Homo sapiens: one gene and its partner. The protein of the gene in region 2 interacts with the protein of the main gene of each other region in a pairwise test. Each region holds a gene or a part of one and is shown on either strand. Other genes may lie near its edges.

What was found. Proteins that work in one complex are often made in the same cells at the same time.
Region 1: the proteins of CIB3 (region 2) and ZNF578 interact in binary tests that used the Homo sapiens proteins (3 or more experiments, as listed by UniProt).

The regions. Positions count from the first base shown.
Region 1 is NC_000019.10:52,508,944-52,512,597, forward strand, and holds part of ZNF578 (zinc finger protein 578), read left to right. Parts: intron 1-1,628; coding exon 1,629-3,211; 3' UTR 3,212-3,654. UniProt on the Homo sapiens protein: May be involved in transcriptional regulation.
Region 2 is NC_000019.10:16,166,894-16,170,547, reverse strand, and holds part of CIB3 (calcium and integrin-binding family member 3), read left to right. Parts: intron 1-806; coding exon 807-918; intron 919-2,263; coding exon 2,264-2,411; intron 2,412-3,654. UniProt on the Homo sapiens protein: Acts a an auxiliary subunit of the sensory mechanoelectrical transduction (MET) channel in hair cells. Plays a role in regulating hair cell MET channel localization and function.

The DNA of each region.
Region 1 (3,654 bases), about 36 Mb from region 2:
CAGGCTGGAGTGCAATGGCACGATCTCGGCTCACTGCAACCTCCGGCTCCTGGGTTCAAAAGATTCTTTTGCCTCAGCCTCCAAAGTAGCTGAGATAACAGGCACCCGCCACCACACCCGGCTGATGTTTTGGTGTTCTTAGTAGAGATGCAGTTTCCCCATGTTGGCCAGCCTGTTCTCGAACTCCTGACCTCGTGCTCCACTTGCCTCAGCCTCCCAAGGTGCTGGGATTACAGGTTGTGAGTCGTCGTGCCCAGCCGTTAGTCAGTTCTTATTCCTTATAATGCTGTGTATTTTCTTGACCTCATACATCAGAAGGTAGTGATCTTAACATGTATTTCAGTTCTTATATTGTGTGCTGGTGGTTAAGTAGATGTTGTGGCTTTTTTCTTAAGAGGGAATTGTTTAGAATTCTGCAGGCTGTATAAATGTACTTATTTGCTTGCTGGTTTTATCATGGGTTACAATATTTTATTAATTAATTTTTATAATTTTGCATATGGCTTTTCAGTATGTGGTATGCAATATAACTGACACACTCCACTCGTTAATGTCAAAAGTGCCACCAGGTGCAGTGGCTCACACCGGCAATCCCAGAAATTTGGGAGGCCAAAGGGGGTGGAGACCAGCCTGGCCAACATGGTGAAACCCGGTCTCTACCAAAAACACACAAACTAGCCAGTCATAGTGGTGTGTGCCTGTAATCCCAGGTACTTAAGAGGCTGAGGCAGGAGAATCACTTCAACCCAGCAGGCAGAGGTTGCAGTGAGCTGAGATGGCACCATGGCACTTCAAGCTGGAATGCAAGACTGTCTCAAAAAAATAAAACTACAAAAAATGGTTTCAAAAGTCACTATGTGCCTGTTCTGTGTGGATATATGTAATTTTATGACATTTATTGAGAAAAGTATTGTATTAACTTTTTTTTTCTTTTTTTTCCTTTTTTTTTTCTGTTTGAGGCATAGTCTCACTTTGTTGCCCAGTGTGGAGTGCAGTGGTGACATCTTGGCTCACTGCAACCTCTGCCTCCCCGGTTCAAGTGATTCTTGTGCCTCAGCCTCCTGAGTAACTGTGACTACAGGCACGGGCCAGCACACCTGGCTAATTTTTGTAATCTTTTCTTATCTTCTCAGTGCTATAATTGTTTGATAATACAGAATTTCCATTGCTTTTGGTTATCCTTACATGAGCTTGTTGTGGATTATTTACCAATATAGTATATTGTGTGGTGTTTTTTTTTTGCATTTATTTGTACACAGTAAATATGGTTTAAATATGAAGAGTATATATTTTTCTCTTCCTTGATGTGACAGTGATATGTTTTTTGCAAACTGTGATACACTGTAGGGTCACAGTGGAAAAATACTCCTTACTTTAGGCTTACACATGTTTGTGCCCTGTCAGTGTTTTGTCATGATATAGGAAATAAGCTTTTATAGACTTGATTTGAAGGACATGTAATTGTCTGTTATTTATTAAAGAATCTTACTACTTTTGTGTTCGTAAACTTTGAAGATCATGTTTGGGAAGTTTAAAATAAGTATTTTTTATTGTGTCATATTTACACACTTCAGTATGATTTACCATCTGCACTTAATTGCAAACGTATTGGTGTTTATATTTTGTAGATATCTCTTCCAAACGCATGATGAAGGAGGTCTTGTCAACAGGGCAAGGCAATACAGAAGTGATCCACACAGGGATGTTGCAAAGACATGAAAGTTATCACACTGGAGATTTTTGCTTCCAGGAAATTGAAAAAGATATTCATGACTTTGAGTTTCAGTCACAAAAAGATGAAAGAAATGGCCATGAAGCATCCATGCCAAAAATCAAAGAGTTGATGGGTAGCACAGACCGACATGATCAAAGGCATGCTGGAAACAAGCCTATTAAAGATCAGCTTGGATTAAGCTTTCATTTGCATCTTCCTGAACTCCACATATTTCAGCCCGAAGAGAAAATTGCTAATCAAGTGGAGAAGTCTGTCAACGATGCTTCCTCAATTTCAACATCCCAAAGAATTTCTTGTAGGCCTGAAACACATACTCCTAATAACTATGGGAATAATTTTTTCCATTCATCATTACTCACACAAAAACAGGAAGTACACATGAGAGAAAAATCTTTCCAATGTAATGAGACTGGCGAAGCCTTTAATTGTAGCTCATTTGTAAGGAAACATCAGATAATCCATTTAGGAGAAAAACAATATAAATTTGATATATGTGGCAAAGTCTTTAATGAGAAGCGATACCTTGCACGCCATCGTAGATGTCACACTAGTGAGAAACCTTACAAGTGTAATGAATGTGGAAAGTCCTTCAGTTACAAGTCATCCCTGACATGCCATCGTAGATGTCACACTGGTGAGAAACCTTACAAGTGTAATGAATGTGGAAAGTCCTTCAGTTACAAGTCATCCCTTACATGCCATCATAGGTGTCACACTGGTGAGAAACCTTACAAGTGTAATGAATGTGGAAAGTCCTTCAGTTACAAGTCATCCCTTAGATGCCATCGTAGACTTCATACTGGAATAAAACCTTACAAGTGTAATGAGTGTGGCAAGATGTTTGGTCAAAATTCAACCCTTGTAATTCATAAGGCAATTCATACTGGAGAGAAACCTTACAAGTGTAATGAATGTGGCAAGGCTTTTAATCAACAATCACACCTTTCACGTCATCATAGACTTCATACTGGAGAGAAACCTTACAAGTGTAATGACTGTGGTAAGGCTTTTATTCATCAGTCAAGCCTTGCACGTCATCATAGACTTCATACTGGAGAGAAATCTTACAAATGTGAAGAATGTGACAGAGTTTTCAGTCAGAAATCAAACCTTGAGAGACACAAGATAATTCATACTGGAGAGAAACCTTACAAGTGTAATGAGTGTCACAAGACCTTCAGTCACAGGTCATCTCTTCCATGCCATCGTAGACTTCATAGTGGTGAGAAACCTTACAAGTGTAATGAATGTGGGAAGACTTTTAATGTACAGTCACACCTTTCACGTCATCATAGACTTCATACTGGAGAGAAACCTTACAAATGTAAGGTTTGTGACAAGGCTTTCATGTGCCATTCTTATCTGGCAAACCATACTAGAATTCATAGCGGAGAGAAACCTTACAAGTGTAATGAGTGTGGTAAGGCTCACAATCACTTGATTGATTCATCAATCAAGCCTTGCATGTCATCATAGACTTCATACTGGAGAGAAACCTTACAAATGTGAAGCATGTGACAAAGTTTTCAGTCACAGATCACGCCTTAAAAGACATAGGAGAATTCATACTGGAGAGAAACCTTACAAGTGTAATGAGTGTGGCAAAGCCTTTAGTGACCAGTCAACACTTACCATCAGGCCATTCATGGTGTAGGGAAACTTGACTAATGTAATGATTGTCACAAAGTCTTCAGTAACGCTACAACGATTGCAAATCATTGGAGAATCCATAATGAAGAGAGATCTTCCGAGTGTAATAAATGTGGCAAATTTTTCAGACATCGTTCATACCTTGCAGTTCATCAGTGAACTCATACTGGAGAGAAACCTTACAAATGTCATGACTGTGGCAAGGTCTTCAGTCAAGCTTCATCCTATGCAAAACATAGGAGAATTCATGCAGGAGAGAAATGTCACAA
Region 2 (3,654 bases):
CATCCGGCCTCTTCCTCCCATTATAAGGAGAGGAAGGGAAGGTATGAAAGTGAAGGTATCTTTGGAGGCAGGGTCTTGCTGATAACATGACAATATCCAGAGATGTGTGGATTATATAGGATTCTCTGAATGCTTGCTGTGATCTGGCCATAAGCACCCTCCCTTCTCCCAACTCCATCTGCTTTAGAAGCTCCTACTCATGCTTCAAAGCCCAGAACCAATGTCCCCTCTTCCAGGAACCCCCTTCTCCTCGCTAGCTTGCTTCCCCCAGTCCAGTCTCCCTTTGTCCTGTGGCCCTCTCTGCACCTTGACCCTGCCCCCAGGGAGGTTAGGGGTGCCTGTGTCAGGCTCTGTATGCTTGAGGTCCAGGCCCAGGGCTGAGTGTTCTTGGGGACCCAGTATACCTCAGTGTGCAGTGAGCAGCTGTGAATGTGAAAGAGAAGGGACTTGGCCAGGTGCGGTGGCTCACGCCTGTAATCCCAACACTTTGGGAGGCTAAGTCAGGTGGATCATCTGAGGTCAGGAGTTTGAGACCAGCCTGACCAACATGAAACCCCGTCGCTACTAAAAATACAAAAGAATTAGCCGGGCGTGGCAGGGTGTGCCTGTAATCCCAGCTACTTGGGAGGCTGAGGCAGGAGAATTGCTTGAACCCGGGAGGCAGAGGTTACAGTGAGCCGAGATTGTGCCACTGCACTCCAGCCTGGGTGACAGACCGAGACTCTGTCTCAAAAAACAAAGAAGGGACAAGCGTCTTGCCTGCTCCCTGCTCCCAGTCTTTCCCAGCTTTTTCCTCCCCACATCAGGCTCTTCTATCGCTACCAGGACCTGGCCCCACAGCTCGTGCCCCTCGACTATACCACCTGCCCCGATGTGAAGGTGCCCTACGAGCTCATTGGCAGCATGCCCGAGCTGAAGGTATGCCCAGGCCATGGGACAAACAGGGTAAAAAATAGTAGAGATGTCTCTCGTTGCATTCCTCTGAGGTCAGTGCTGCAGTTATCCCCATTTTAAAGATAAGAAAACTGAGACTCAGAGAGGTTAAGACACTTGTTCATGGTCACACAGCTACAATGTGACAGAGACAGGGTTAAAACCCAGAGTTGGCTGGTGTGGTGGCTCAAGCCTGTAATCCCAGCACTTTGGGAGGCCGAGGCGGGTGGATCACCTGAGGTCAGGAGTTCGAGACCAGCCTGGCCAACATGGTGAAACCCCGTCTCTACTAAAAATACAAAAATTAGCTGGGCGTGGTAGTGCACACCTGTAATCCCAGCTACTAGGGAGACTGAGGCAGGAGAATTGCTTGAACTCAGGAGGTGGAGGTTGCAGTGAGCAGAGATCTAGCCACAGTACTCCAGCCTGGGCGACAGAGTGAGACTCTGTCTCAAAAAACAAACAAACAAACAAACAACAAACAAAAAACACCCAGAATTGGGAGGATGAAACGAGATAATACAGGCAACAAATTCAGTACAGGGTGTGTTGTGTGTCAAGTACTCAGAGAACGTTAGTTCTTCTTGTAACAGGAGCTGCTAAATGCAGGTTTTTATCAGCAGGATGTTTGACACATGGTTTGTGCCTCCAAGGGGAACTTGTGGGTTGAGTAACTGACTGTGAGTAGGGTTGATTTTATTGCAAGTGACAAAAACCTTATTTGAGAGGGACAGAATGGTTTGGATCAAAATGGATTGCCCCTGAACAACAACAAAAAAATCCAGAGGCAGGGACAGTGTCAGGTACAGCTGGAACCAGGGCCTCTGATGATGTGCTCAGGAATCTCCCCCCATATCTCGGCTCCTCCCAGGAAGAGGTTTCAGTCTAAGGCAGCCTCACCTCTTGAGGCTGTGAAGGGACCTCTCAGCCACTCAGCTTTAGCTTCTGTGAGCTTTGCAAGCAGCAGTAATCAGGTCCCCTCCCTCCCAATTTTTCAGAAAAATATCCCAGGTCAGCCTCTGATTGGCTAGCTTGAGTCACATGCCCATCACAGAGCCAATCACTATTGCCAGGTGAATGGAACTCTCTGATTGGCCTTGCCTGGGTCACATGGCTGCTCCAAGAGCTGGAAGTTGGGGCAAGGTTGCTCAGATCACAGGGGTGGAGGGTGGAGTTGTCCAAAGTCCTGTCCAGGGACCATGGGAGGGAGTGGGTCTTGATGGAGGGTACTTGGAGGTTCCCAGAAGGTGGGTGCTGATAGTGAGACCACATGGACCCCAGAGACCTTGGGGGTCAGAGGATGGCCTCCCAGCTTCCTTTCTGTCCCCAGGACAACCCCTTCCGCCAGAGGATTGCCCAGGTATTCTCTGAGGATGGGGATGGCCACATGACCCTGGACAACTTTTTGGACATGTTTTCCGTGATGAGTGAAATGGCTCCCCGCGACCTCAAGGCTTACTATGCTTTTAAAATTTATGGTGCGTGCGTGGCCCTGGGGTTGGGAAGCATGGGGATGGGGTGGGGAGTGGGAACTGGGTGGGTGGCACCCACATCACAAATATCTCCCCAGGGGTTTTGAGGCCCTATGTGGCCCTGTCCTCCACCCCACTCCAATGCCTCCCCACCTCATTTATTTGCTAACTCTATTCCAGCCACATGGGCCTTGCTGTTCCTCAAACACAGTCTTCGGCCTCTGGGCCTTTGCCTCTGCTGAACCCTCTGCCTAGAACACCTTTCGCCTTGCTCCTTATTTATTTATTGATTTTTATTTTTTATTTTTTTGAGATGGAGTTTCGCTCTTTTTGCCCAGGCTAGAGTGCAGTGGCTCAATCTTGGCTTACTGCAGTCTCCGCCTCCCAGGTTCAAGTGATTCTTCTGCCTCAGCCTTCCGAGTAGCTGGGATTACAGGCAGGTGCCATCACGCCTGGCTAATTTTTGTATTTTTAGTAGAAACGGGGTTTCACCATGTTGGCCAGGCTTGTCTCGAACTCTTGACCTCGGGTGATCCGCCCGCCTCGGCCTCCCAAAGTGCTGGGATTACAGACGTGAGCCACCGCACCCAGCTCCCCTGGCTCCTTCTTACCCTTGAAGTCTAGGTCAAAAGTAGGCCTCTCCCCATTCATCCCCCCATCCCACCATCCTATTTCTCTTCTAGCACCAGGCAATGCTGCTTAATTTCTTGTTCCTTGACCTGTTCACTTCTTATTGACTTTGTCCCTGAGAAGACTCAAAGGTACCAACAGTATCTATTTTGCTCACCACCTGTCATCTGAGCCTGGCTCAGTAAATATTTGTTGAATGACTGAATGAAAGAAAAACAGTTATCTTAGTGCCTGGCACCTTGTGTGCACTCAATAAATACTTGTTTTTTTTGTGTGTGTGTTTTTTTTTTGTGAGACAAAGTCTTGCTCTGTCCCCCAGACTGGAGTGCAGTGACGCGATCTCAGCTCACTGCAACCTCCGTCTTCCGGGTTCAAGCAGTTCTCCTGCCTCAGCCTGCTGAGTAGCTGAGATTGATTACAGGTGCCTGCCACAACGCCTGACTAATTTTTTGTATTTTTAGTAGAGACGGAGTTTCACCATGTTGGCCAGACTGGTCTCGAACTCCTGACCTCAGGTGATCCACCCGCCTCAGCCTCCCAAAGTGCTGGGATTACAGGCATGAACCACCACGCCCAGCCAAATTTTTGTATTTTTAGTAAAGATGGGGTTTCACCATGT